2 separate regions of the Homo sapiens genome follow, and region 1 is linked to region 2. Evidence: fine-mapped expression QTL. A gene starts in region 2. The other region holds a variant in brackets. All regions are shown on one strand. Distances are from middle to middle. Region 1 has its middle 57 kb from the start of KCNH5. Region 2 holds the start of KCNH5 (potassium voltage-gated channel subfamily H member 5).

Evidence for each region. PIP is the estimated chance that this variant, and not a neighbour inherited with it, causes the effect.
Region 1: its variant is fine-mapped to the expression of KCNH5 in testis (GTEx, PIP above 0.99).

The regions. Positions count from the first base shown.
Region 1 is chr14:63,094,210-63,109,862 of GRCh38, forward strand. No RefSeq gene overlaps it. Among named protein-coding and RNA genes, the nearest start is that of KCNH5, 57 kb to the left of the region's middle. The variant T/C (reference allele first, on the strand shown) is at 7,838.
Region 2 is chr14:63,038,396-63,054,048 of GRCh38, forward strand. KCNH5 (potassium voltage-gated channel subfamily H member 5) reads right to left here and starts at 7,063. Exons shown (of 11, transcript NM_139318.5): 1 at 6,719-7,063. The coding sequence starts at 6,791. RefSeq lists enhancers at 6,324-6,827, 6,828-7,331.

The sequences.
Region 1 (15,653 bases), 56 kb after region 2:
CTTTAAGGCATGGATTTAAAGAGTTTATATTTAATCAACTTGAAACATGCAGCATAAGCCCCTCTCAAATTCAAACAGGAACACATGGAATTTATCTGTAAACATTCTTATAGATAGATCAAAGGAAGAAGCTATTCTACAAAGTCACAATATTGAAAATAAAAGAAAACTGAGAAAGAATATGATGGTGCCTTTAAGTGTTTCATTTTCCAGTTAAGTATGACATTCTTTAGGGGATCATGTAATTATCAAGCCAGGCAGTGTCTCCAGGCTATTGTGAATCTTTTTGCACTCAGGCCTGAACTGACTGAAACCATGTCAAATAGCTGGGGCCTCTATCATTTTGAAAGAGTGCTGTTACAACTTCTAGAGGTTCACAAATTTAATTCATAGCAACAAAAGTCACAGAACAAGCTCCCTGAAAATCATCTGAAATAGGTTGAAGTCAACTGAACAAAATAAAGCCAGTACTGGTATAGGCATATTTTAAAAGCCATTTTTCCTATAAACAGATTCAAGGATTATACCACATTTAACTTTCCAGACAGATGACTGGCTTTGGTCTTCAGGGTGCTTTCTTTATAGCAGTGGTCACCGACCTTTTTGGCACCGGGGACTGGTTTCGTTTCGTGCAAGACAATTTTCCTATGGAGGAGAGGTGGTTGGTTTTGGAATGAAACTGTTCCACTTCAATCATCAGGCATTAGTTAGAGTCTCATAAGGAGCACACACCTTAGATTCCTCGCAGGCACAGTTCACAATGGGGTTGTGCTCCTATGAGAATCAAACACTGCCACTGATGGCATGGAGGCAGAGCTCAGGTGGTAATGCTGCTGGCTCGCCACTCACCTCCTGCCGTGCAGCCTGGCTCCTAACAGGCCACAGACTGGTACTGGTCCATGGCCCGGGGATTAGGGACCCCTGCTTTATAGAATGGTCACAGATAAGGACAAATATGCTACCTGGAGGACCATCTGAATCACACAAACTACAAATATGGAAGCCAAGGAGTGGTAAGATGATAGTCTGCAACACTATCTTAAGTCTAAACTGGAGTCTTGACGATAGAACAACTTAAATCAGATAAATTCCATAAAAGTAAACAAATTGTTGGCATGACAGTCAATTATGAAGAAAGACATTTCAAAGATCTGAACACACTGAAAAGACTGACACACCAGAGACTGGTCCCGGGTATGTGATGTAGCATCGAGGTTTCTCTTTCTTTCCACCCTTCATTGGTAGATATAACCCTGAGAAATAAAAAGGAAGCTAACTGTGGAAGCTAAATGTTTAAAAAAAAATTGCTTTTACATTGTGAATTTTGATACAACGATTCCATTGAGTCCAAGTAGAGATGTTCTAAAAAAATTCAGAGTATTCAGAAAGTGATAGAAATATTTCTCCAATAATAATTATTATTTTAATAATCATTTAATATGAATAATTAAAACAACTTATATCTGTATTTTGCACCCCATTTGAAAACCTACTTTAACATTCATAATCTCCCTCAAGCTTTCCAAAAACTCCATGTGTTAAGCATGATGATTCCCATTTTACAGATGAGGAAATGGAAGCACAAGGAATTAAACTTGACCAGGACAACACAGCCCAGCAGACCTTTGATGTTTTCTAGCCTCACAAAAATATCTGAATGACATAGATTTTATTTATATATATATATATAAAACAATTTCATTTAATAATATAGCATAGAAATAAAATCACAAATATACACACAAAAGTGTAATAGAAGTAGAACACTCTCATCAGTTCTTTGGGGGAAAAGTGGCCATATAAGGCCACAGAATAATTATTATTATTCGTTAAGGGAAAATAATTATTCTCTGGGGATATTGAATTTATTCTAATATTAATACAGCTTTAAAAAACCCAAAGAATTGTTTATTGTGTGGAAGCAGTGCGGATTATACATAAGCTAGGAACCTCTGGGAAGTATGTTTGTCTTGGTATATGGCTTTTTATTTTTTTTTAATTCATTGTTTTTGTTTGGCCCAGTAATTACACTTTGAAGTTCCATAGTACAGAGAAGATGTAGCAAGAAAGCGGATTTGAATAGGTTTTTCATTGTTTCTCATAAAGACATGATTTGTAGTTACACTGTTTTCTTTTACGGTGTTTTCACATGACCAAATCCTCCCTTCCAGAAAAGAAACAAAATCAGCCAAATTGCCAACATTCTTCACCTCTGCCACCACTCAAGACAGCTTATTTGCATGTTACAGTGAAGGCTCTTATTCGCTCTTTTTCTCCGGAGCCTTATCTTGAATCTAGACTATTTCATTGAAATCTTAAAATAAAAAGATGTAATATCTCTAGCTCTATTATTTTGATAATGACCATCCTATAGAATTTAGTGCACACTTGACACTTTGTTCTTTTCTCAAATCACACTGTAAAACAACCTGAAAGGTTTTTTTCTAATTATTCATTTAACAACTGATAAAACATCTCTCTAGTAGAAAGAATATGCACCTAGTGGAATTTCTCCTTATCTACAATTAAAGTCACCCTCCATTGCTAAACAATGTAACCAAGATTCTGCAATACTAAGTAGACTCTTCAGATTCAAAGGACCCATTTGAAAAATTAAATTCTCTAATACAGCCTGAGTAACACCTGAGCAGAAGCGGAGATGCAAAGAAAAGAACATTTCTAAAGGGAGCTGGGGGAAAGGAAGACACAAAGTGTTGGTTTTCTCATCTTTGAACTGAGCCTTAGAGATGCCCACATGCCAGGAAGAAACCAACAAAACACAGAAAAGCAAAAACCAGGAGAAATCTCTAGGAAGATAGAATCTGGGACCCAGGAGTGGTAGGAAATGGCAGCCAAGAGCACAAGAAAGTCAGGCACTATGGATAGGAAAAAGGCTGTGAGAACCTATTTCCCTCCAGACATGTTCTGGATGTTCAATCAGTAGGACCACCTTGGGAATAGCCAGCTGCACTAGCAAGCCAATAACTCCAGGATGGGCCAATCTCTCATCACCACTCCCCCAAACTGTATAGCCTCCTAATTACAGCTGTGGGAGGCATCTGTTAGAAAAGAGTAGCGCCTGAGTCGAAGGTACAGGGAGGTTCCCTGAGGGGCAGGATAAATTGGGATGGCTTCAGGCAGAGGAAAACAAACGGAATTGTTAATATCAGAATGTACTGAAGAATTTCTCTACCCTGAGGCATACCCTTCTCAATGTAACCAGAAGAGAAATAATAAAGAGGAGAAATTAGCGTAATAAAAACAAAAAAGAGCCAGGTGTGGTGGCTCATGCCTATAATCCCAGCACTTTGGGAGGCGAAGACGGGCAGATCACTTGAGGTCATGAGTTCAATACCAGCCTGACCAACATGGTGAAACCCCATCTCTACTAAAAATACAAAAATTAGCTGGGCACGGTGGCAGGTGCCTGTAATCCCAGCTCAGGAGGCTGAGGGAGGAGAATCGCTTGAACCCAGGAGGCGGAGGTTGCAGTGAGCTAAGATCGCACCACTGCACTCCAGCCTGGGTGACAGAGCAAGACTCCATCTCAAAAAAAAAAAGATAAAGATAAATCAATGAAACCAAAAGTCAGTCAATAAAATTAATGTATTTCTAGTCAGCCTGATCAAGAACATAAGAGAGAAAACTATCCCTATCAGGATTGAGAAAGGGAATATAACCACAGTTCCTACCCACATTTAAAAGATAATATGTGGATATTGTAAACAATTTATGCCAATAACTGAAAACTTAGATCAAATGGTTGAATTACTTGAAAGACACACACTTCCAAAGTTCATCCAAGAATAATCTGAATAACTTAATATTTATTATCTACTGAATTTGTACTTCAACATTTTCCCCGTAAAGAAAACTCCAGACACAAAGGAATTTACTGGTGGGCTGTGCCAAATATTTATGGAAGAAATAATCACAAATTCTTCCAGAAAAATAGCTGAAAAAGGAACACTTCCTAAGTCATTCTATGAGGCCAACATTAGCATGATATCAAACCAAACAATGCAAGAAATGGAAATTATAGACTAATATTCCTCATTAGCATAAATGCAAAAAACTCATAAAATTTTAACTAGTTGATTGCAACAATATAGAAAAAGGAAAGGACATCATGACCATGTAGCATTGTTCACAGAAATGCAAAGATGGTTTAATGTCTGAAAATCAATAACTTCAATTCACTGTACAGGCTGAGTATCCCTTATCCAAAATGCTTGGGTTCAGAAGTGTTTTGGATTTCACTTTTTTCTTTTTTTTTTTTTTGAATTTTGAAATATTTACAGGTACATAATGAGATATCTTGGGGATGGGACCCAAGTCTAAACATAAAATTTATTTACGTTTCAAAAACACCTTATACACATAGGCTGAAGGTAAATTTATACAATATTTTTAATAGTTTGGGCAAGAAATAAAGTTTGTGTTAAGTACTTATGTGTGGAATTTTCCACTTGGGGCAGGGCATCATTGTTGGCACTCAAAAAAGTTGCAGATTTTGGAGCATTTGGGATTTGGGATTTTCGGATTAAGGATGCTTAACTTGTATTAACAGAATAAAAAGGGAAAACCATATGATCAACTCATTAGGTGCTAAAACAAATTTACAAAATTCAATATTAATTTGTGATAAAAACTCTCAGCAAACTAATAGAGAAGAGAACTTTAACCTGAAAAAGAACATATATGTTAAGCATGTAGGCAAAATCATAATTAATGGTGAAATTCTGAATGTTTTTATCTCTTCCTCTAAGATTTTAAGTAAGTAATGAATATCTGCTCTCACCACTTCTACTCAACATTGCACTAGAGGACCTAACAAGTGAAATAAGTTTTAAAATAAATACAGATTAGAAAGGAAAATTTAAAACTGTCTTTTAATTACAGAAAACATGATCATGTGTGTAGAAAATCCTAAGGAATCATTGTCCCTAATTCACAGGTGAGGAGTCAAACATTTTTTAAAGTCTTAAAATCTGCTCAGAGTCACACAGATTCTATATTTTCATATCCAATATTCAAACCCAGGTCAGGGTGGCTCCAAAGATTATCCTCCAAATATGATCTTCACTACCTTTTCTAGAATTCCCTTTGGGAATGCTAACAAGCAGGTATGACAGCCAAGTGTAACTCAGATGCACTTTGAGATTAGGAAGTCACCTTCTTGATCACCATCTCCCACTCAGTGTTACCTTGCCCATACTCCCCAGGGATTCTCCATATCTGAGGTAGGATGGGGAAAGACAGATCATAAAAGAGGTTGCCTTTGTCTTTTCTAGTCACACTCACTCTGCCCTTCCAATTCTGTATCAGAATAAACGTGACCCCTTTTCTTTGATTTCTACACAAAACACAAGGCAGGAAGGTTGAGTAGTGTACTGTGTGAAAAACAAAATATAAACAGTAGGTATTCCCTAAAGACTTCATGCTTTGCTTCTCAAGCTGTCCTCTGGAAATTCAATTCCCCTATTTAATTTGCAGAACACTGTAACTCTATGCTACCTATGGCTTGGCTTGAGTGTATCACTGCTGTTCTAGGGCTCATTAATGTGCTTTGCTGAACAATGGATCAGCTTCTCTAGGTTCCCTGATGTAGCTGTCCAGAAGAGCAGGAGAGAGCCCCACTTTCTTCTTTGTCCTTTTTTCTCCCCCATTAGAGGTTTATTTCTCTCACCTATATAAATTGTTCTACGTACTTTAAAAGTCTAATGTTGTTCATTATAGTTTGTTTTATTTTTTTAAAAAAAGACTTTTACTACTAATAATACCTTAATTACTTATACTTTAATCACCGATAACCTACTAATAGGGTAATTACACAGAAAACATCAGTCTCTTTGAATGGAGGTAGCAAGAGATGCTCTTACTAATTAATTCTCTGGGGTGCTAGCAAGCCAGTATAGTGCTTAGGTTATAATGTTTTGGAGGAAAAGTATCATATTCATCCTAGACCCTGCTATTAATATACTCTCAGGTTAATACTTTCCCACAAAAGCTTTAGCAATAACAATTTAGTAACGAAGAGGCTAGTCTATGTTTTAGCCACACTGGATGAGTGGCAGTTCCAGAACTTCAATTCTAGAGCCACCACAGGTAGTAGGAGGGCCCTGGGTTGTGAGGCCAGCTCAGAGGTGTGGCTGGAAACTGCCCAGACCCTCACTTGCAAGTTACAAAGAAAACCAGGGAAGGAAAATGAGCTCCTTTGAAGCAGAGAGAGGGAAGAGAAGAGCATAGGGCAGAGCCTTGGAATGCACTATTTCCGCAACGCAGAAAAAGCTAAGAACATTTCTACCATTTTTTAAAGAAAGGACTTAAGTGGTTCCTAAAACTGAGATCAATGTTTTACATAAGTTCAGCATTTGTGGCTGCTGGAATTTTTATATCTGATTTCTGCTTTCCTCCAAACGATAGTCTCAGAACATTTTCTGAAATCTCAGAGGTAAAAGATCAAGGCAAGCCAGGACCTCCAGCATTTGTTAAAATGTTTTGTGTAATCCATTTGGTTTATTCTGCTCCAGGGCAGGCTCATTTTAATCCTCATATGCAGTCCATTGTGACCCTTCTGCCCACAAAGATAAGAGGAGTAAAGCTTTTACAATAATGTAATATCATATCTGGAAAGGATTCCACAAATCCTGTGGTAAGATTGCAATGAAAAATCCAATTTAGCAAAAGCTTTACACACAGACATGCACACATACAATGCAGTATACCTCCAATCTCTGAAGCTCATGGTAGGGAGGGGTGGGCCAGGGGAGAGACAGAAACCTGTATTCTCAAAAACACACCACTTCAGAATGCAAGTCTTACTACTGCAAAAATTGTTTAATATACATCGAATAAGTTATTACATGAGTACTAAGATCTTTAGACTCTTTTTCCCATTTGTTCTGAATCTCAGACTAGCAAGATATAACTTTTTTGGTTTATCTTATAAATCTCAATTTTTTCTAGCAGAAATGTCTAGCTTTGACAAACCCAATTTTGCTTTCTGTTGCCCTTTAAGATATGTTGTTATGGTTTCAGAGAAAATTCCAAAATATTTCTGATTTTTAAGCTTACTGCTTTATGCTTAACAGTATTATCCAGATTTAATGGAGAATTAATAAACAAACACAAAACCAGTATGATGGTTTGCTAACCAACAGCAGTACAGTTAAAAGCAGTTTGCTTCCTCTGGGCAGATTTTGACCAACATTATCACAATGACCTTAGCCTATAACGGAAAGTGATCAGCTTCCCCCAAAGCAGCCGCCCAACTACCTGCTCAGGCTATTAATCTCTTTTCATTACCTACATTTTTAATCTACTTTGTGTGTGCTCCTTGTTTTTTGGGCAGGAAATGAGATGCAGCAGTAAAGCCGTGTCCACCAAAGAAGAAAAGAAAGTGCCGATGGTGTGTGGGGTGGGGGCGGAGGGTTGAAACGAGGACCTACCTTGCTTCCTGTGAGAGCTAGAGTTGTATAAAGAAAATCTCTTAGATAAAATTCTCTCTTGTCCTTGGAAAGAGCACACTGCTTACTCTATAGTTAATTCTTTCACGAAACCATTATTTGGTAACATAGTTAACCTTACCCTGATTAATCTGTTTCAAGTGTGAATCTTTATGTGTTGGATTTTGTTGGTGTCTTTCATTTGCTCAAAAATTCAGTCTTCGGCCGGGCGCGGTGGCTCACGCCTGTAATCCCAGCACTTTGGGAGGCCGAGGCGGGCAGATCACAAGGTCAGAAGATCCAGACCATCCTGGCTAACACGTGAAACTCCGTCTCTACTAAAAATACAAAAAAAAAAAAAAAAAAAAATAGCGTGACGTGGTGGTGGG[T/C]GCCTGTAGACCCAGACACTCGGGAGGCTGACGCAGGAGAATGGCGTGAACCCAGGAGGCGGAGCTTGCAGTGAGCTGAGATCGCGCCACTGCACTCCAGCCTGGGGGACAGAGCGAGACTACGTCTCAAAAAAAAAAAAAAATTCAGTCTTCATCTCTTTCTGATTCCACCACACCCTCTCCTGACAATTTCAGTCCTTTCCCCTTCTTTTGCACAGAAAACAAACTCACATATTCACAAAAGCTTTCTTTGTGCCTTTCATTCTTCACCCACCCTTCTTTGGAACATCTTAACTTTCCACGTATCCTGACTTTAAATTCCACTGGCTTCACATTCCACCTTGTACTGTAGTTATTAGTTGGAGTGTCTCATTTCCCCAACCAGATAATCATCTCAAAGGCCACAGCCCTTTGTATCATCCAGAGTGTACATAATAGGTTCTTAATCGTTATTTGTTGGATTTGAATTATTTTGTTTCTCTCATCATCACTCAAGCTTCTTCTGACATTTGTGCAAGCAAATGAAGTTACAACATAAAATCTAAAAACTCTGTGTAGCATGTAAGACTGATCATATAGTTGCCTCTGAATCAGCCTTTTTTCTAAGTATTAATCTCTCTCATCCACTCCCAACTACTAGCCCAACCCATATATATTTTAAGCCACGTTGATTAAATAACAATCTACTGTATTATTTTTAAAGACCTAATCGTGTCACCTTAGGCAGATTCCTTGTCTTCTCTATTATAAGTGTTTATTTCAGTGACTAATTATACTTAACTAATACTGGTTTCTTTTTTCATCTTGTAGTTCTCCAGACCAACACTATCTCATGCTTCTATGCTTTTGTACATTCCTCCCCTTCTTGGAATACTGCCCTGATTCCTGCTAACTCCCCTCTCATTCTAATGACTCTAAATTTAGAACTGTAACCCCAGATTCTCTCCTGACCCCAAAACCATACATCCAACTGTTTATTTGGCATCTCTGCCAAGAGACACTAAAAGTCTATGGCATTGGTCCAGATAAAATATTATAGTGGCCTGGATTAGGACTGTAGCTGTGAAGATGAGCAAAATAAGTAGAATTTGGGATGTACTTTGAGAGTTTTGTCAATAGGAGTGTCTGTGACATGTAGATGCAGGTTAGTTCACATTATTCAATGCCCAACATGAGACCTAGAGCACAGGCTCAATTCTCTGTTAACTTTGCTCCTTTTTATGGCTAAAGCTCTGGTGAAAGACTTCATAAGCATACATCTCGCAATCGCATGTATTTAGTTGTCAGGCACAGAAAGCTGGACTACAAATCACAAATCTGTTAACACTGATTCAGTATTAGATAATTTAAATTCTTTATCTCCTGATAGGCTTCTTATTTTTAAAAGATCCAGGCTTGCACCTCCACTTTCCTTCTTAAAATTTTCACTTGAAAGTCTCACAGTTATCTCATACTTAACATTTTCAAAACCAAATTCTTGTATCTTTTTTCTCTTTTTTTCTATTTATTTATCTTTATTTGGATAGTTTTAGGGGAACAGGTGGTGTTTGGTTGCATAGAAAAGTTCTTCAGTGGTGATTTCTGACATTTTGGTGCACTCATCACTTGACCAGTGTACACTGTACCCAATGTGTAGTCTTTCATCCCTCACCCCCTCCCACTTCCCCCCCCCACCCCGAGTTCCCAAAGTCCACTGTATCATTCTTATGCCTTTGTGTCCTCATAGCTTAACTCCCACTTATAAGTGACAACACAGGATGTTTGGTTTTCCATTCCTGAGTTACTTCACTTAGAATAATGGTCTCTAACTCCATCCAGGTTGCTACGAATGCCCTTATTTTGTTCCTTTTTATGGCTGAGTAGTATTCCATGCTTATCCACTTGTTGATGGATAGGCATTTAGGCTGGTTCTACATTTTTGCAATTGCAAATTGTGCCACTATAAACATGCATGTGGAATTCTTGTATCATATGCTACCCCAGTTTGCTTTTTCTCCAGTGTTCTTTATCTCAAAAATTGCACCATCTTCTACCCAGGGCCAGAAATTTAACAATTATCAGTTTAACAATTATCCTTCCCTTACTCCCCAGGTCCAATTGGTTGTGACATCCTAATAATTCTACCACCAAATTATAACTTGAAGTCACACAGTTATCTCCATTTCTGTGACTACCTCCTAGTTCAAACCAATGACATCTCTCACTGGACAATCGTAAATAACTGCTTTTATGCCTCTATCCTAGACTTTCTTCAGTGCATTTTCTACACAGAAGCCAGAGAGTCAATTTAAAAAATGCAAATCTGTAACATCTCCTTCATTTAGAATTCTTCAATTCTTTCCACCGTTTTTAGAATAAAGTTCAAAATCCTCAACCTTACCTACAACACCATGCACAGTTTTGCCTCCACCTCTCTCTAACTGAGCCTCATAACTCTCTCCCCCTTACTCACTATGCTCCAGACACACTAAGTTTCTCTCTGTTTTTACTACATTCCTTGATGACAGCTCCTTACCTGTGCTCTTCTCTACTGTATTCTCAGCACCTAGGTAACACTTTGCATATACATGTTCAATTAATATTTATTAAATGTATAAAAGAATGAATGGGTTTTCAGGATCATAACCTTTATGCCAGAAGAGGAGTTGAAACTATTATGATCCTTTCAGCTGCAAGTAATGGAAGATTCAACTAACAGAGGTCTGAACAATAAAGAATTTTATTGTATCAGACAACTAGAAGCCCAAGAATAGAGCAGCTTTGGGCCAGTTATTTCAGCTACTGAATAACATCTTCAAGACTCCAGCTTCTTCCCTTCTCTCTTCTGTGCCATTCTCAGTATGCAATGCCTCCCCTTATGGTCACAAGAAAGCTAGAACATTTCAGATATCATAGTCAATGATGACAGCCAACTAATAATAGGTGTGTTTTCCCCATGCAGCTATTTTCAATAATGAAAACAAAAAAAAGCCTTTCCAGAAACTTCTCAGAAGAATTACCCTCAGTTCTACACACCAAAAGTGAGTTACACGTTCTATTCATTCCTAAGCAAATCACTGACAAAGGAAATGAAACCACCACGACTGATGTAGACCAGTTATGCCTTGAAGCTGGGAAGTTCGCTTTTCTTAAGCAGTGAAAGGAAAACAAGGAAACCAAATCAGAACTTTGCCAACAATGAAAAGTCGAACAGTAGGGAGAAATGAGAAATGCAATTGACAAGAAAAAGACTATTAGACAACCAAGAGTGTCAGCCACAAAAGAACATCATTGTCATCATCATCATCATCATCATCATCAAAGTTCAAAAATAGTGTTGGCCAAAACACACTTCTCTATTTAAGTGAATTATTAGGACTTGAAATTATTTAAATAAAGACTTAAATAAAGACTTTAAATTAACTAAAGTTAATTCTAAAAACATGTGTTGAGATAGCATAATATTTCAGGGCATAGATTGTGGTTACATGTGGTTACACTTGACCCCACTTCAACCAAAACATCTATACTTATTTCTGTTTAAAATATTGAGACTCACAAAAATATTTCATTTGAAAAAAAGGGTTCTGGATTCTAGGTGAAGGTAACAGCTAATTAGAGAGAAATGCTCCAGCATTGAGAGAAGGCAGCAATCGCCCTGTTCTCCTCCTCTCTTTAACATCCCTTCTCCATCTGTTTGCGGCCTCCTCTTCTACCTGTTCTTTCAATGCTGATGTACTACAGTCTACTCTTTCCATACTTTTTGTCTCATGTGTTTTCTTTCTTCAGCTTCCACTACCAATTTTTTGCTAATAAATACAAACCTCTAAGCACTCCTCTCCTGAGCCTCAGATTTGAACTAGCAAAGATTCAATGGTTATCTCCAACTAAACATCCCACAAACACCCCCAAATTCACCTAGCTAAAAATTACACCCAGCACCTATTGCCTTCCCACACCCCATCTGTACTTGTTCTTCCCTGGGTGTTCCCAACATCAGTAAAATGTCTCCCCATCAACTTCGCGCCCAGAGCAGAAACCTGCCCAGTCATTGTCCAGTCCTCTCTCTTCCTCACTGACACATCAGAAAGTTGTCAATATTGTCACTTCTAACATCCAAATTTCTCTCACACCAACTCCTTTCCACTCTACCCCCTGCACACTACTCTCATCATTTCTTGTATAGTTTTTTCTTCTTCTTAAAAAATATTATTTTATTTTATTTTATGTTCTGGGATGCATGTGCAGGATGTACAGGTTTGCTACATAGGTAAACTTGTGCCATGGTGGTTTGCTGCACCCATCAACCCATCACCTAGGTATTAAGCCTCGCATGCATTAGCTACTTTTTTAATTATTATACTTTAAGTTCTGGGGTATGTGTGCAGAATGTGCAGGTTTGTTACATAGTTATACACGTGCCATGGTGGCTTGCTGCACCCATCAACCCATCATCTACATTAGGTATTTCTCCTAATGCTATCTCTCCCCTAGCCCCCCACCCCATGACAGGCCCCATTGTGGATGTTCCCCTCCCTGTGTCCATGTGTTCTCATTGTTCAACTCCCACTTATGAGTGAGAACATGCGGTGTTTGGTTTTCTGTTCTTGTGTTAGTTTGCTGAGAATGATGGTTTCCAGCATCATCCATTTCCCTGCAGAACATGAACTCATCCTTTTTCATGGCTGCATAGTATTCCATGGTGTATATGTGCCACATTTTCTTTATCCAAGGTATCATTGATGGGCATTTGGGTTGGTTCCAAGTCTTTGCTATTGTGAACAGTGCTGTAATAAACATATGTGTACATGTCTTTTGGTATGTATCTTTGGGTATATATCCAGTAATGGGATTGCTGGGTCGAATGGTATTTCTAGTTCCAGATCATTCAGGAATTGCCACACTGTCTTCCACCATGGTTGAACTAATTTACACTCCCACCAACAGTGTATAAGTGTTCCTATTTCTCCACATCACCTCCAGCATCTGTTGTTTACTGACTTTTTAATGATCGCCATTCTAACTGGTGTGAGATGGTATCTCATTGTGGTTTTGATTTGCATTTCTCTAATGACCAGTGATGATGAGATTTTTTTAATATGTCAGTTGGCTGCATGAATGTCTTCTTTTGAGAATTGACTGTTCATATCCTTTGTCCACTTTTTGATGAGGTTGGTTGTTTTTTTTCTAGTATATTTCTTTAATTTTTTTATAGATTCTGAATATTAGCCCTTTATCAAATGGATAGATTGCAAAATTTTTCTCCCATTCTGTAGGTTGCCTGTTCACTCTGGTGATAGTTTCTTTTGCTGTGCAGAAGCTCTTTAGTTTAATCAGATCCCATTCGTCAATTTTGGCTTTTGTTGCCATTACCTTTGGTGTTTTAGACATGAAGTCCTTGCCCATGCCTATGTCCTGAATGGTATTGCCTAGGTTTTCTTCTAGGGTTTTTATGGTTTTAGGTCTTAAGTTTAAGCCTTTACTCCATCTTGAATTAATTTTTGTATAAGGTTTAAGGAAGGGATCCAGTTTCAACTTTCTGCATATGGCTAGCCAGTTTTCCTAACACCGTTTATTAAATAGGGAATCCTTTCCCCATTTCTTGTTTTTGTCACGTTTGTCAAAGATTAGATGGTTGTAGATGTGCGGTATTATTTCTGAGGCCTCTGTTCTGTTCCATTGGTCTATATATCTGTTTTGGTACCAGTACCATGCTATTTTGGTTACTATAGCCTTGTAGTATAGTTTGAAGTCAGGTAGCGTGATGCCTCCAGCTTTGTTCTTTTCACTTAGGATTGTCTTGCCTATGTGGGCTCTTTTTTGGTTCCATATGAAATTTATAGTAGTTTTTTCCAATTCTGTGAAGAAAGTCATTGGTAGCTTGATGGGGATGGCATTGAATCTATAAATTACTTTAGGCAGCATGGTCATTTTCACAATATTGATTTTTCCTATCCATGAGCATGGAATGTTTTTCCATTTGTTTGTGTCCTCTCTTATTTCCTTGAGCAGTGGTTTGTAGTTTTCCTTGAAGAGGTCCTTCACATCCCTTGTAAGTTGTACTCCTAGGTATCTTATTCTTTTTGCAGCAATTGTGAATGGGAGATTTCACTCATGATTTGGCTCTCTGTCTGTTATTGGTATATAGGAATGCTTGTGATATTTGCACATTGATTTTGTATCCTGAGACTTTGCTGAAGTTGCTTATCAGCTTAAGCAGATTTTGGGCTGAGACAATGGGGTTTTCTGAATATACAATCATGTCATCTGCAAACAGAGACAATTTGACTCCCTCTCTTCCTATTTGAATACGCTTTATTTCTTTCTTTTGCCTGATTGCCCTGGCCAGAACTTCCAGTAGTATGTTGAATAGGAGTGGTGAGAGAGGGCATCCTTGTCTTGTGCTGGTTTTCAAAAGGAATGCTTCCAGTTTTCGCCCATTCAGTATGATGTTGGCTGTGGGTTTGTCATAAACAGCTCTTATAATTTTGAGATACGTTCCATCAATGCCAAGTTTATTGAGAGTTTTTAGCATGAAGGGCTGTTGAATTTTGTCAGAGGCCTTTTCTGCATCTATTGAGACAATCATGCGGTTTTTGTCATTGGTTCTGTTTATGTGATGGATTACGTTTATTGATTTGCGTATGTTGAACCGCCTTGTATCACAGGGATGAAGCCAACTTGATCATGGTGGATAAGCTTTTTGATGTGCTGCTGGATTCCGTTTGTCAGTATTTTATTGAGGATTTTGCATCGAGTTCATCAAGGATATTGGCCTGAAATTTTCTTTTTTTGTTGTGTCTCTGCCAGGTTTTGGTATCAGGATGATGCTGGCCTCATAAAATGAGTTAGGGAGGATTCCTTCTTTCTCTATTGTTTGGAATAGTTTCAGAAGTAATGGTACCAGCTCACCTTTGTACCTCTGGTAGAATTTGGCTGTGAATCTCTCTGGTCCTGGGCTTTTTTTTTGGTTGGTAGGATATTAATTGCTGCCTCAGTTTCAGAACTTGTTATTGGTCTAATCAGGGATTCAACTTCTTCTTGGTTTAGTCTTAGGAGGGCATATGTGTCTATGAATTTGTCCATTTCTTCTAGATTTTCTAGTTTATTTGCATAGAGGTGTTTATAGTATTTTCTGATGGTAGTTTCTATTTCTGTGGGATCAGTAGTGATATCACCTTTATCATTTTTATTGCATCTATTTGATTCTTCTCTCTTTTCTTATTTATTAGTCTGGCTAGTGGTCTATCTATTTTTGTTGATCTTTTCCAAAATAACAGCTCCTGGATTCATTGATTTTTTGAAGGGTTTTTTGTGTCTCTATCTCCTTCAGTTCTGCTCTGATCTTAGTTATTTCTTGTCTTCTGCTGGCTTTTGAAGTTGGTAAACCCTGTGGTGGTACATCTGCCTCCTGTGATCTACCCTTCATCCTACAGCCACAGTGCGATTTCTAAAACAAACATCCAAAGCTATTTTCCTTTCTTAAAAGTTTTCTTTTTCCAGAGCTACAGGATAAAGTTTGAACTCCTCCCGGTACCCTGCAAGCCCCATCATGATTTGCTCTCACTTCTTCTCCAGCCTAATCTCTTAGCCTTTGTCACTCATGGGGAGAGGTGGCCTTACTAATAAATTGATTTAGACTCCAGGTTTTGAAGCCAGACTGCCTGAGCTTGAATCTTGGCTCTGTCACTTAGTGACTTACCTGAGAAAGTCATTTGACCTCTCTGTGCCTCTGATTTCCCACTGGTAACATGGATGTAATAATATTCCCTGAAAGTTAAGTAAGGCAGTATATGTAAAGGATGTGGAAGAGTGCCTAGCACATAGTAAGTGCTCA
Region 2 (15,653 bases):
CTGTTATGATTATGCACATAAGCTCAGATCTCAAATTGCGTATCTTTTGAGATCCATATGACTTTGTACTTAATAGTTATATTTCTGTAATGGGACCAGACCCAAAGAGAGAGGGAAATCTATTTTCAATAAAATTTCCAATAGCTTTCTAACCACACTTTCTTTCTAAATTACTGTGCTCATTAATTTTCCTCTTTTTTCTTTTGTCAACCTAATATATCACAAAACTACTATCTAGAATGTATATAAATATGTCTCTTTACTAGGTAATAGTATCCACATATAACCAAACACTAAAATGATGTCTAAAATACACACTGATCTATGTGACAATAGTTATTACTGCCTCCATTTGATCAAATATATTTCAAGACTCAGCCTTTCTAATATATTAGTTTCTATATTATATAAAATAGGAATATTTAAATGATTCTTTTTAATTATCTTTAAATGATGAAAAGGACTCATGTCATGTATTATAAAGCTAGACTATTTAGTGGAAAATGCTGAGGATTTTTTTACATTCTGCTTTGCTATTGGTAAAGGAATTTGTTTCATAAATGTCCATTTTCTAGAATACTTTCTAGAACACTACTTTCTTTGACCTCAATTTCCACAACAATAATTGCCACTGGTTTTGGATTGTGATTTGTTATCCATGTTTATCTGATTCACAACACGTCTCTTGTATTTATAAAAGTACTTTAAGACATGTTTCAATTTTTCCCATTAAAACCAAAATTGTGTGGAACATTTCAAAGTATCTCTTGCTATATGGTTTCTAACCCACCAAAAAGAAAAAAGAATTGCCTTAAACCAAAATTCAGATTTACTGACTAAGAGGAAACAAAACCTCTTAAAACAGTCTACTCCCAATCCTGTCTTTTGGAGTTTAATAATTTAAAAAACTTTGAAAATATTATTTAATAATTTTAAACAATTTAGCTCTGTATTTAATTTTTAAAATTTGGGTAAAAATAAAATACTAGGATTACATAACATCCTGAGGAAGTAACTATAAATCTGTAAACTATCTTTTGATAAAATTAAAGCACTGTTATGAACTGATTCTACTTCACCAATTCAATATAAATTATATAAAGATGTCTCATAGAGAAAAAATCTGTTGAAGTGGCTCAATATGAAGCATTATGTACAGGTCATTTTTCTGCAAGACTTTATATTTCATATACTGTATGTATATGAAATGCTGAAATTGCGTATTACCATAAAATTTTATCTGCTAAAGAAAATGCTCTATTAGTCTAAAATGTATTTAAATCCATCTCTTTACAGAAACAATTTTTATCAGTATCACTTTCGTGTAGTTATAAAATGTTGATCACTGTCAACTAAAATAAATTCTAATAATTAATATAATACATACCTTTTTTCATTTAACTTTCCTGCATGTCTTACATTTTAGATATTTTCTTCCAAGAGCACCAACTAACTACATTGACTCCCTCCCAGTCAAATTTGGGGGGTGGCAAGCAAGGTGGGGGAAGGGGGAGGTGGGAGAACAGAAAAAGAGAAAAATATTAACTACTTGGTTCACCTGTGACAGAACCCAGAGTGACCTCTTGTGGTAAATACTAACTACAGTACTTTGGTGAACAGCACAACCTTTTCCTAGGCTACACTCTGGAGAATGCAGAAGCATTGTTCCTCCAAGCTAAGAAACTCGGCTGTGACTCACAAGGAAAGAAAAAGATAAACACTGACTAAACTAAAGGGCTTCTTTAGGAAATCTACTCAGTCGCTATCAATTAAAATAATCATAACTACGCCCTTCTATTAAAAATAATGTTTATATGATCCTTTTAGTAAGTCAGTTACAAGGTGCCTAGGTAGATGGATGTCTTACACATCCTACTTCTGGAATCAAGCAAAAGATAAACAAAGAGGGCAATTTCTAGTGAAGATAACAGTATCTTAGAATAAGCATCCCTCTATCAGCAATGTGCTGCATTCATTATATAACACAGTGTGGGAATCTAATGCAAGGGACAATCTTGTGGCTTATGTATAAATATAATTTAGGAAGTGGTCAGTATAATTTCAACCTCTTTGATATTTTAAATGTTAAAGTGGTACATTATAAGACCTGAGTAAACCAGTGCTTCAAAAACACTGTGTGGTTTTATCAGTATTTCCTGAATAGTGTCTTAGATATTAAAGAAAACCTTTCAAGAAAAAATGTCAATAACTTTATAACAACAACAACCAAAATAATGTCCATTTGTTTTCCATTATTTCTTTTAAATTGGCTAATTGTAAAAGTTATTATTCCTTTTTTGTTTTGTTTACAGATCACTAGTTCTGCTTCCTCTCTTATAGGTTTCTTTTAAGACCTCAGTTTGTACAAATGTCAATTCAGCATGAAAATAATTTTGGACTTTTCTACAAGTAAGAGATAGCTGAGTAAAAAAAGTGCTTGTGCAACCAGCTATCTCAAGCAGAATGAAAAATTGAGGATACTGAGTTTCTTCTCTTGAAAGGTAAGTGGTTCATAAAATACTACCTTCTCTGTTTTCTTCTTTCCTGAACCCCTTTTTTCCCCAAAAAGAAAAACACTTCTAGTTTTCCACAAAACTAAAATAAACTTCCAATTTGTCATAAAGCTTAAAATATTAAATAATAATAATTTCTAGTTAAAAGGTATTAATTTGTAGTTAAAATTTTCAAAATAGCAACCTAGCTTACTGTCACTCAAACTAATCATGTCTGCCTATTTGCTAAGGAATTGAAGACAACATATGAGTAAAATGTGCTGCCCAAAGACAAAATCAGGTTGAAGGTCTTTGAAATATTTTTTGTCTTTTGAATCTAAATTTTAACCTAAAAGTCCTAAAAACAGTTACTTTCTTCCAGATACTTAACCTCTACCCACAAGTTTATTGCTCCCTAGAGCCCAATTTAGATTAATAGTTTGCATAAATAATTGAAATTTAAATAAAGGAAGGTATCCTAATAATGTTCTAGACACAAATCTAGTCTGTAAGCCCTTGAGGCAGGGGCCTTCTGGGAGACATTGCTCAGCTGTAATGAACTCACCACATAGTCCTCTAAACCTTCCCTTACTAATGGCTTATTTTGATCGTACTAGCCAAAAGTTTGTCTAAGCCGTCCTATAGCATTTATACTTTAAACTTTACAACTTCTTAGAGTAATAATGTTCTCTATATTTACTAGAATCACATGCTAAGAATTATTATAATTCCTTTTGTCTAGAAATGATCTTATCTTTTATCTTTAAACTAAAAAGAATTCCTTGCTTCTTTTGAGATTTGGCTATAAAGGGTGTGTGTATCCATCCTACTCAATGGCCCTCATTATTTTATTTTATAGACTTTGAATCACCAGTAACAACTTGCAATGCTCGCTTATAACAGACTGAGTCAACTAAATAAGGAAAATAAAAATCCAGTCTCAAGAGGTGTGAAATAATAGCATAGGTTATAGTTGCCACTCTGGAGTACAGAATACAGTGCTGGTATTCTGGGAAACTGCATCTGAGGAGTTTGGAACTTTATTAAGAAATCCTCAGGTATAAAATTGATATTCAAATATGCCACACTTCTTGCTTTTTTGTTTCACATCATCAAAAAAATGTTCTGGTAAATTTGTAACTGGCTGAGATTTCAGTTCATTGGTGATACCCATGGACAAATAAATGTCTGACATTTTCTCTTTGTGTCCATTTCCCTTGCATGTCCCATAATCTCTCTCTCTCTCTCTCCCACCCCACCCCTTTCTCTCTGCTCTGTGTGTTTTGTTTTGTTTTGTTTCCTACATCTCTGTTTTGCTCCTTGTGTGCAAGACAGAGAAAAAGAGTTAGATTGCTTCCTCTCTGTCTGTAGGGTGGTGGACACACTTTACAGACAAATCCTAAAAAAGAAGAAGTAGGATATTCCTCTTTTCAGTTTTCTGGGTGGATGCCTGACCAGCTGAGTGTTTACCTATGTGACTGTGTATTATCTGGGTATCTCTCTATATCTATGTCTATGTTTGGCTGACTCTCACTGTAAGATCTGACCTTTTCATAAGAAGAAAATGGTATTGTATCAGAAAGAGCTTTTCTTGGGGTTCAGGTAAAAAGACAAGGCCAGCCTCTGTTTCTTCAATTGTTAAATAGATTGGGAGTGCTGGGTGCTATTCTTTCTCTTCCTGCTAAACCTCTGCCAACACTTCACTTTCAATGTTGTTAAGTTAGTGAATAATGAAACCTTCAAAGTGACAAACCTGATCCATCTGTGAGAATCCTGAAGGGAATTTTCTATTAGTCTCAATTAAACAATTTCTCAGGATAAATTTTTCTATTTCTCTGCCAAATCATATAGAAATGACAACTGCGGGATATTCCCCCGTGAATGTGTAGACCAATTTAATACCATAATTCTCAATTTCTGAGGTTCTGCCTATAAAAGAGGTACTGAGACTTTTCAGTATTTATCACACACACCTGCATATATACTCACTACAACTATCTAACACACTTCAAACAGTTCAGGGTCTTTGAGTAGTGGTATTCAAAGTTAGCCATAGGCGATTAGAGGTGGCATTTAAGTGCCAAAACAGATAAATTTTCATTTTCACTTGGTATTGTCCAGGAAAGAAACATTTAACCAATGAAACGATTATGAACATGAAGTGTAAAAAAGATAAAATACTCATTAATTTGAGTGGTAGATACAAAATGGAGGCAACAGAAACAGACATTTCTAAGCCACCTAAGGTAAATCTTTATTTCATAGTATATCTACAATTTTTAAAAATTCAAAAAACTATCTCATAGTTTCATAGTCTGCATAAGAAGCTTCAACCACAGTTGCTATATTAATAAAGTTTAGTCAAGGGATTCTCATGTTCTTTCTCTTTATAAAGCAGAGCAATCGTAACCCTGCAGATTTTATGTTTTAAGGCCTTCTCTGAAAAGTTCTCTCATAGACCAAATTGCGTGAAGTTGAAATAACCCAAGAGGATGAGAAAGCTGAAAGAAGACTTGTATACTTAACTAATTCCAATAATCCACACATTTTCCCCAAACTGTTTTAAGAGTAATATCCCCTTGTATTATAGGTTTAGTATAATCTTAATACAAGAAGGTAATCTATAAGAATAAAAATTGCCTACCATTATGAATTTATATAACTAAAAAATATACAGGTATTTAAAAGAATATTAGGCCAGACCCTATTCGCTATTTTTTCCGACCCAAATACAACACTACTGCTTTAGACTTTTATTGTTTCAGGCATTGGCCAAAACGAAGAAATAAAGTTTAAAACCTCAAATTAAAAACAAATAACAAGTCAGATATTTGGGGAAAATACTTTGAAACACTTAAATACAGTTAGTCTCAAAATCAGAGGAAATATTTACAAGCCTAGTCTTAAAAGAGATTCTAATCTAAGAATTAGTATAATCTAATCTACCATTTAGGGAAAGCATTATTTATTTAATTATTTGATATTTCAGTGTACCTCTGTCTTTCCCTGTGCCTCCAACTAGGCAAGGAGCCTCTTAAGAAGAGGGGATGTGTATTAATTACTTTTTTTTAATCCCAAGAAACCACAGAGTATCTGTGGTATAAGGCACCCAAATAAATATTGTTTCAATGAATGAATAAACAAGGCACTATGGAACTGCATAGAGTATTTCCATTGCTTTGTTCCAAGCTCTACTGTACTCCATATACAGAAATGTCTTTCTCATTATTCTCCAAGCAAGAGATGTCAAAATAACAGCCTCTGAAGGAAAAACTTAAAAAGATATTCAACATATCTTACTTATGAAGTTTAAAATTATACAAAAGAATTAAAAACAAGTAGAAAACGCAGATTTCAGTAAGATGCAAAGTTTATAAGGTCTTAAAATGTGGAAATATATAACCATTCCCATCCAAAATATCTTGTAGGAAATGAATGTATAAATGGATGGTATTTTAAAGACACACTAAGGCAAGAAAACTTTAACGCCAGTAGCAAGGTAGGATGGCATCTTTTTGATTTTTTTCTAGTTGCATTAAAAGCACAATAGTTACTGCTTCACTTCTACGTTTCTCATGTTTAAGTCAAACGAAATATATAGATGAATGTACAGTGAAAAACATAGCAAGAAGAAACTTGAAGCACCAATTTGTCCACAGTAATTGGCTTCCCATTTTGCAAGCACTGAACTCTTTCTTAGGTTCAACCTCAACTACTCTCCCCGGCACAAAGCACCTTTCCCCGTGACCACGAGGGCCAAAAGCCTTTCCAGAGATTTAAATCTTGTTAAGTAGCCACTTTCGCAGCCATTCCCAACTTGAGGGAAACCTTTCCACTGAGATTAACTCAGAATTTGGTCAGTCCCTGCTGCTCACTTTGGGGAAAAATGTGGGAGAAGGAAGAACAAGAAAGATAAAAGCAAAACTCAACTCTATGTTCCAGATGTACCTACACCCTATCCAACCCCTTTCTTTCCTCCAGTTCTGGGCTCTGGACAGGTGGGAGGGGGTGAGTCTGTCTGGTAGGAAGGGGATGCAACTAACTTTCCCCCACCATCTCATTGCCACCCCACCCCACCCCAAATCCAGCCCAACTGGTAAATGAAACCACCAGGTAAGGCTGCCTGCATCCTCCTCCCCCCTTGGGAGAGGGATGGGATGGGGAGGATGGGGGGCGCGTGTGGGCGGGATGGAGGTGGGGGTGTTCTGAACTACAACTCTCCTTACCACTGGAGCGCCTGACGATGTTCTCCAAAAATGTGTTCTGCGGTGCCACCAGCCCTCTCTTGCCCCCCGGCATCCTGGGTCTGGAGAGCAGCGGCCAGGATCCGCGGCGGGGGAGGGGGGGATGCAGGCAAAGAAGGTGGAGGAAGAGGAGGAAAAGGTGGAAGAGAAGATTGAGCCGAAAGAAGAGGGGGCGCGGCGGCGGCGACGGGGTCCCCTGACTGTGTCTCCAGCCCGACCCGGATGAGCAGCTCTGGGGAGGAGGACCAGGCAGTTCATGGTAGTAGCGCTCCCCCGGCCGCCGCTGCCCAGACTGTGGCGGTGCCGCACACGGGGCTCGGGAACTGCAGGCTCCGCGGGGCACAGTGCGCCTGCGCCGCCCCCGCTGTCGCTGTCCCGCCGGTGCTGATGCTGAGGCTGCTGCTGAGGCTGCTACCGCGGCGGCCGGCGCCTGGGCGCGGGCTCTGCATCTCTCCCCCTGCTGGGGAGCGCAAGCGGGAACTCAAGCCCCCACCCTCCCAATCCCCCTCAGCTCAGACCGAGACCCCTTCCCCGCGCCTTCGTCTCCCGGTCTCCTCGTCCACCCCCTCGCGCAGCGAGCTCCGGGCTGAACAGCGTAGCCCAACTTCTGGGCTGTGCGCCTGGTGGTTGCTCCTCTCCCCGGAGATCGAGGCAAGCGATCGCTGTCCAATCGGGCCGGTGGAATGGGAGAAGAGGGTGCCAGAGAGAGCAGTGGCCAGTCGGAGGCTCACATCTCGGCGTCTCCCGCTCGGGTCCCGAATCCGGGCTGCTGGCGCGGACGCGGCTCCCGGGGCGGAGGTGCGGGCAGGCTCCAGCTCCAGCCCCAGCCGAGGCTGAGAGCAGGGCAGGGACTGGCTGGGCGGCGCGCGGGGACGCAGAGCAGCCACCTGACGCTGCTACCGCCCCCCTCCGGGCTCCGGCGCCTGAAACCTTCCTGAACACTGGCGCTTTCCGCACCGCCCTTACCCCACCCCGGAGCGGGAGCGCGAGCCCTGAAGTCCGAGCGCACAGCCGGCGCCCGGAATGGCCCCTGCGACCCGGGCCGGGCTTGGCGTCTGGGGGAGCGTGCGGCCGCCCAGGGGAGTTTCCCCCAGGACCGCTGAGCGCAGGAGGCGATCCGCGAGCCCGCCACCGCTGCAAAGTTGCGGGAAAGGTTGCACTTGATGTGAAGAGTAGGGGAAGAGGGTGAATAATTCACACCCGAGAGAGGGGGAGTGAGGAGGGCAGTGTTAGCGATGGAAAAACGGTAAAGGCTGTGGGGGCGAAGATGCGCCAGGGTGGAGCAGGGCACGAATCACCTCTAACAAACCCCCCAATTTCCAGGCGTTGAGAACGGACAGCAGCGGCACCGTTACAAACAGTCCAAAAGCCTGAATGTGTCACAGAGAAAGGAAAATGGCATAAATGCGAAAGGGGTGGAGAGAGATGGAAAGGAAAGAGGAGCCCGCACTGAGGCACCTTCCTTGATCTAAGGCAGTGGTTCTCAAAGTGGCCTGGACGGGCAGCATCCGCATCTGCACCACCTAAGAACTTGTTTATAATGCAAATTAGTGGATTCTACCCCAGAGTTAGGGAACCAGGAACTCTGAGGATTGGGTTGACTCATCTGTTTAAACAAGCCCTCCAGGTAAATATGATACATGTAAGGCTTCCTCTTTTCTCTGGGGGCTGCACCTGGGCCTGTCGAGAAAGGACGATTGTGCAAACAGGGTCAAAGAGTGGGGGACCAAAAGTGCACTGCCGCGGCGTCAGCGGTTGGTGGTAGAGCGAAGTCTTCAGTGTTGAAGGCGAAAAGATAGTTGGATGGGTGCGTCCCCTTTTGCTGGGGTCAGAATGTGCTAGAGGAGAGGTAATTGCGTTAGAAATTATCAAGGTCAGATTACCAGAAGCAGGGAGAATCCCCAGGCAGGGGTGGAAGTACACATCTCAGCACCTGTCCCCTTTTGGAACCCCCTAGATTACTAATCACTGACCTCAAGACAGGATCTCTCTCTCTCTGTCTGTCTCTGTCTCTCTCTCTCTCCCTCCTTGCCTCCCCTCCCCTCCCCTCCCCTCCCCTCCCCTCCCTCTCTCTCTCCCCTTCTCTCTCCCCTTTCTCTCTCTTCCCACCTCTCTCTCTCCCCCCACCTCTCTCTCCCTTTCTCTCCTCTCCCCAACTGGGTAAGCCTACTGCTTGAAGCAGCTAAATGCAAAACCAGGATCCAGCCTTTACCTTGGGGTCATTTTTTCCCTCTCTGAAATTTTCAGAGACCAGGCAGCTGAGCAAACCCAGAAGGTTGACACGAGGCAATTTTATTCCGCTAAAAATCTTTATGCAAAAAAAAAAAAAAAAAAATCAAGAGACTCGGTGGAATAACACTAGGCTATTCTAGCTTTCCACAGGAAGTGCTGCTGGCCATGGAGCTTATCCCCTTACAGTTAAAATGTCTTTTAAATACATCAGGTGTGTTTAGTTAAATAACAAGAGACTCAGGTGCAGATTGGATCCGTAGTGAGCTTGCCACAGCAGCACTCAAGAGATACGGCCAGGTTACAACTCCCTCCCTGCAGTTGGTGGGAAGAACTGAAACCACCATCACCACAGCAGCCTTAAACACATAATTGAATTTCCCACTCTAGCGATTCTTTTGTGACCTGTGTTCAAATGATCCTAAACTAATCAGTCATTCATTGGCTGGGTTGGTGAATAGACAGACTTATTTTTTAAACATGTATAATTCATTGATTGCTATTCTAGACTTCTAGCATGCTATAATAATTCCATCATCATTAACAGAGAATATTTCAAATCTATATGTTCTTTTGCACATCGTCAGCTGCCCACATCTCGCCTATGGGTATTGATTTAAAATCTCAGGTTCTCAGCATTTCCCATCTAGTATATATATTCTTGTTCCTAATCATTCCTCTGTGGGTGTATTAACTCACATTTCCCAAAGAGGAAATTCTTTTGGACTCCATTAAGACACAATCACAAAATTACTGGTAGAACTTTCTTATTCCCATCTGCAGATTCAATTAAATGACATTTATCCTTTCTTCTTTGTTTCTAATAACTCCATAGCATTATAACGTTTGGATTATTTTAATGATCATAAAAAATGTAGCTGTGTAGTGTCAAAAGGTTACACACTTTTCTTAATCTTCTAGTTTAAATTTTCATTTTATAAAGGAAGAAACCAAGACCCAGAGAGATGAAATATCCTGTCCCAGATGACACAGTGCTTTAGAACAGTCTGCACTGAGACTAAAATCAGGTCTCCTGACCCTGTAGCCAGAGCTCCTTGTAAATAATAGAAAATAACCTAATCTTAGGCTAGTGTGGTAACAACCAGCAACATCAAGGATCTCTATTGCCATCGATGATTTTGCAGCCCATGAAAGAAGAGAAACCCTTGGCAACAACTTGCAACTGTTCCCAATCAAAATAGAGTCAAGGAAAATAGAGTAGCAGCATCATATAGATTGACTGGCCCTAAGGAATATGCTGGCCAGTTGCAACAAGGTGCTAATACAGCATTTTAAAAGTGTGTTACAGACTCCGTATGTGGGGAACAAACCTCAAGATTTAACAGATGAGAGAGATAGGAATTAGAAAGCTTCAATGTCACACAAAGACAAAGCTTCGTTTTGTTATATTGTCAAAAGTCCATTTTAAAACAGAATCATTTGTTCTTTTCTTCTGTCCCTCCAGGTATGGTAATTAGACCTTGTCTGTGATAACCAAGAATTCCAATCCCCAGAAGTGTTCACTGACTCCTAAATCACAGCAGAATGGAAGCTGGCTGAGTGAACTGCAGGTGTGTTCTAGTCTAACCGAAACCAATATAAACGAGAAGGCTTAGAAAACTGATGTAGGAAGTGATGATTTGGAATTACTACTGATTCACTGAAGGACTCTTTTATCAAATACCCCTCCTCTGAAGATTTTCTAATATAGTTTACTTGACAGTAGCTGTAATTATATGTAAATTTTCAAAAATGCATTACAAATAGGTACAGTTGGACTTACTCTTTGATCCCTTTTGTGCAAATGATCCAAGCACTACTTTCTCGGGAAATTTTTATCCTGTTTCCTGCTTTCTGTTTCTGAGCAAACCTCAGTACAGCTCCAAGTTACAACCTGTATGTAGATGCTAAATGGGTGGCTCTGATGGAGGGATGGGAAGAAGGAAAAAAGGAAAGGGGCAAAAGTGATTCCCTATCATGGCCTCCAAGGTTGGCCTCACTAGCAGCAGCATCACTCCATTCCATTTTTAACTCCCTAAACTTCACTGCGTGCCTTTCCACAAAGCCCTATCCCAGCTCTAGCAGTGAAGCATACAAACATCACTAAATTTCTTTGCATGCACCAAATCTCACATTTACACCCATATCTTCTACCTTTCCTCCTTTCTGCTCCCCCCAACTCAGGATCGAAGTTGAGAGAAAGCAGACTAGAGAGACCTAGTGCTTGGACTGTGGACCCAGACTACCTAGAATTTAATCTTGCCTCTCCCACTTACTAGCTATATGACCCAGGGCAGGTTATTTAAGCACAACATCCCTTTCTATAAAATGGGGATAATAATTACCTATTTAATAGTGCTGATATGGAGATTAAGTTAGTTCCTACTTGAAAGCAATGCAGACAATATCTGACAGGTAATAAGCACTATGTAAGTGTTTGAAAGTAAATACATGAGCCTTTTCCTCCCCTTCAACTTTCATTTACAGTGAAGGCTCTAGATAGTGGTCACTACTAAGGTTCACCAATATCCAGTTGCCTTTTCCTGCTCCTTGAAATCAGTGTGGCTATGCAACTAATGCTGGTCAATGAAATAGGAATGGAGGGAAAGGGTGTTACTTCCAAGTGAGCATCTAAGAACCAGGACTTATTTTCTCATCTTCCTCTTCCCCTGCCTCAGTGACTAGGGAATGCCAAGAAATACAAGGAGAACACCTGCCCAAAAGTGTTACCTAGACCTCAGTAGACATTATATAAGCAGGAAATAAACCTTTGTTGTGTCAAGATACTGACAATCCAGCACTATTTGTTACTGTGCCATAACCTAGTCTATCTATCCTGGCTGGTACAGGTTATTAACTTGCTTTGGGAACAGGAGATCAGAGGAACAATAATTCTCCATCCTGACTGCACATTACAGTCACCTGGAGACTTTGTAAGAATCCCAAAGCCACAGCCCAGACCAAGTAAATCAAAATTCCAAAGGATGAGACACAGGCATTACTATTTTTTTTTAAAGTTCCCCAGGTGATTTCTTTTTTTCTTCTTCTTTTTTTTTTTTTAAATGGAGTCTTGTTCTGTCACCAGGCTGGAGTGCAGTGGTGCAATCTCGGCTCACTGCAACTTCCGCCTCTTGGGTTCAAGCAATTCTCCTGCCTCAGCCTCCCAAGTAGCTGGGACTATAGGTGCCCACCACCAAACCCAGCTAATTTTTGTATTTTTAGTACAATTGGGGTTTCACCATGTTGGCCAGGATGGTCTTGATCTCTTGACCTCATGATCAGCCCGCCTCGGCCTCCCAAAGTGCTGGCATTACAGGCATGAGCCACTGCACGCGGCCGTGATTTCTATATGTATCAAGGTTTAGAACCACTGACCTAGAACAAGGCTGCATCCTATGGGAATCTCTGGGGTTTCAATACTGTATGAAAATCCTCAGCTCCCAAGGATCATACCTTCAGTTTCACCTCTCCCACAAAGGCTCTATTACATGCAGCTGTGAGTTTCTGTGTACTTGTATCTGCTGAGCAGCCCAGAAGAGAACCACAAAACCTCCCAGACTAATGCACCATAAATTGAAGGCCTCCTAACTCAACTTGACCTTCTCAATACAGCCCAATCCTTCTGTACATCCTGATCAGCTGCATTTTCCATTATCTGCTGTAGCTTTCTCAAAGCATCTTGTCTCTTTTCACACCTCAGTCATCACTTTTTCACCTCCCAGTCTCAGAAGATCACTCGTAGAAAACAGGTCATGATGTCAATTCTTAGACTTCCTGCCATTGCTCTCTCTTCCTTTTCTTCTTTCTTCCAAACAAATAGAAAGCAATTTCTCTCACCATCCCTCCATCACTGATCTGGATCCTATTCATTTGGGCCTCTGGAGACCTCATTTTGCTGACTGTCCCCTCATTTCTCACTTTGACATTTAACATGCTTTAAAAATGCTTTCTTAACTTGTTATTTCCCTCAAGATTTGGCTCTGTCTCTCCTATCTCTTCATGGTCAATCTTCTGAGAAGTCTGTGATAGGTGTCTCCACTTTCTTGCCTCCTATTCACTCCTTAACCCCCAACAAATTGGCCTCCTTTCAACTGTTTTCCTGAAGTTGCCTCCCCAAAGGTAATTTTTAAATTGCGAAATCCAGTGAGGCAATTTCATTGCTAATCTACTTTACCCACCTATGACGTTTGAGCCTATTACTAATCCTTTCTTCTTGAAACATTCTCCTACCTTAGACTGACTTGTTTTGAATACTGATGCTGTAATCTCAGCATGCATTTTCATTAACCTATCTGTGCCTCAGGGTTTTTTTTCTGTAAAAAAAATTAATAATGCCTACCACATATGGTTGATGTAAGAATTAAATGAGATAGTACAGGTGGAGAATCTTGCATCCAGCTTTCTGAAATAGAAAACTCTGATATCCTACGGGTTTTTTTCATAAATTTTTTACAAACTCATTTGCCAATAAAACCTGACCTGAACTGTTAGGTGGCTATTTGTACTCTTTTTTTTATCCCATCTGCTGTGGATATTGACCATGTCTTGCTGCACAGATATTCATGTGTTTGAAAACAGAGATTGCTGCCCCTAACCCCAGTGAGACAGATACAAATACATAGAAATCCACAAATATCTGAATTCCAAAACACAGATCTTTTTCCTGCAACTGTAGATACCCATACCCATGGACTGACTGGCAATTCCACGGGAATCTCTAACATATTCAAAACAAATGAATCATCTTGCAGCCTGCCCAAACTCTCTCCCCCTCCAGTGTTTCTTATCTCAGGAGCTACCTCTATCCACCCAGTTATCCAAGTTAGTAACATCAACACTTCTCTACCCCCGACTCCACATCCAGTCCTATTCATTCAACCTCCCAGATATCTCTTTAAACTATCCACCTCTCACTCTCTCTGTTGGCTCTGCTCCAGGTCAGGCCCCGTCATTTTTTACTTGGATTTCCACATCAGCCTTCCAACTGGTCTCCCTTCTTCCTGTGTTTTCCGGCCATACATAGTCCTCTCTATTTTCTTCTCCAAGCTCCACCACAGTTCATTTTTCCCCCTGCACTATAGCTAAAGTGATCTTTCTAATGCATAAATCTGTTATGTCATTTCCCTGTGTAAACACTTCTAAGTCTCTTTGCCCCCAGGTGAAAGCTCAAAGCCCTTACCTGGCCTTTTTATATCCTTCCCTATCTGACTCCTGCTTATCTATCCAGGATCAACTCTCATCATTCCCCATTCCAACCCTCCACCTTCATACTTCCTCCCTCCCTATGTCCCTTTGTATTCCTTGTGCTTACTATGCTGTCTCTTTCTTCCTCCACCAATGTCCTGCATCACTAGCCACTAGCCACCTTACTTCAGACACTATATGAGATGTCATTGCCTTCAAGAGGCCTTCTTTGACTCTCCATGACCTGGTAAACAGCCCTTCCTTCCTGTAAGTTCTTCTAATACCACTCTATGCTTCCTCTGTTGCAACATTGTACCTCACTCTTTGCATCTCAATGTTGTTAAGACAAAAATAATAATAATAAAAAAGAAAAGATTGCAAATACAGTTGAAATCTTATGTATCTCTTCACCAGAACTGCCACTAGTGCTTTTGGCATCTTCGTGAGAATTAGGAAAAGAAGTCCCTTCTGGCCAGTCATAGGGCCAAGTCACAGCACACCGATTGATGAGATATTTGTGGGCTGGATTTCAGCCTCTATTTTTTCCCTTAATGGGTGTGCTTGGTGGGAAGAAGGAGGGAGCTTTCTAGCTGACAGAACTAGAAAAAAGGAAAATCATAATGATAAGAAAGCTTGTGATATGTGACTAACAGTAGACAAAATGAACCTTTAAATGGAAGATAGAATTGGAGGCAGTTAGGGGCTCATCAGGCCAACTTAAGGGGTTTGGACTTTATTCTGTAGGCAATGAAAGACATATTTTGAGTAAATATGTGACATGGTATTTGAGGAGAAAAAATCAGTTTCTGATTGAAGATGCTTTAGGGAGAGAAAAGTCCAGGATTGAAAAAACTACTTAAGAGACCCCTATATACAAGAAGCTGATATTTTTGAAATATTAAATTATTCCCAAGCCCCATATTTACTGTCACCCTCTTGCTTTCATTGTATCATCATTCCTCACCACAGCTCACCTCTTCCTGGCTTTTGAATTTCAAGTCTAAGCATTAGAACAGAAATACAATGAGAAAAGTGTTATAATAAAGGCTCTATACATTCTTACCCGGTGTTAGTCACTGTTCTAAATACTTTACACGAATGGTCTCATTTAATCTCATTTAATTTTAATAGAGCAAAATTGAATTTAATTCAATTCAACAAATATTTATTATGCATCTATACACCAGGCACCATAGTAGGTATTTACATTATCCTCATTGAACCAAAAAGAAACTGAGAAACAGAGAAGTTCAGTAACTGGCACAAGGTCACAAAGGTAGTATGTGATGGAGTCAGGATTATGTCCTCAGGTACTCTGTCTTCAAAGCCCAAATGCTTAGCCATCTATTTCACCATTGCACTACACTGTCACCCAAAAGATTTTGAAAATATCTAAGAACCAGCTGTCTCATATGCTCCACATCCACCCTAAATGAGAAAAAAATTCCCCTGTGCTAAGGGAAGGAAGACAAGTTGGAGAAGAAGAGTAAGGAGGACCTTCTCC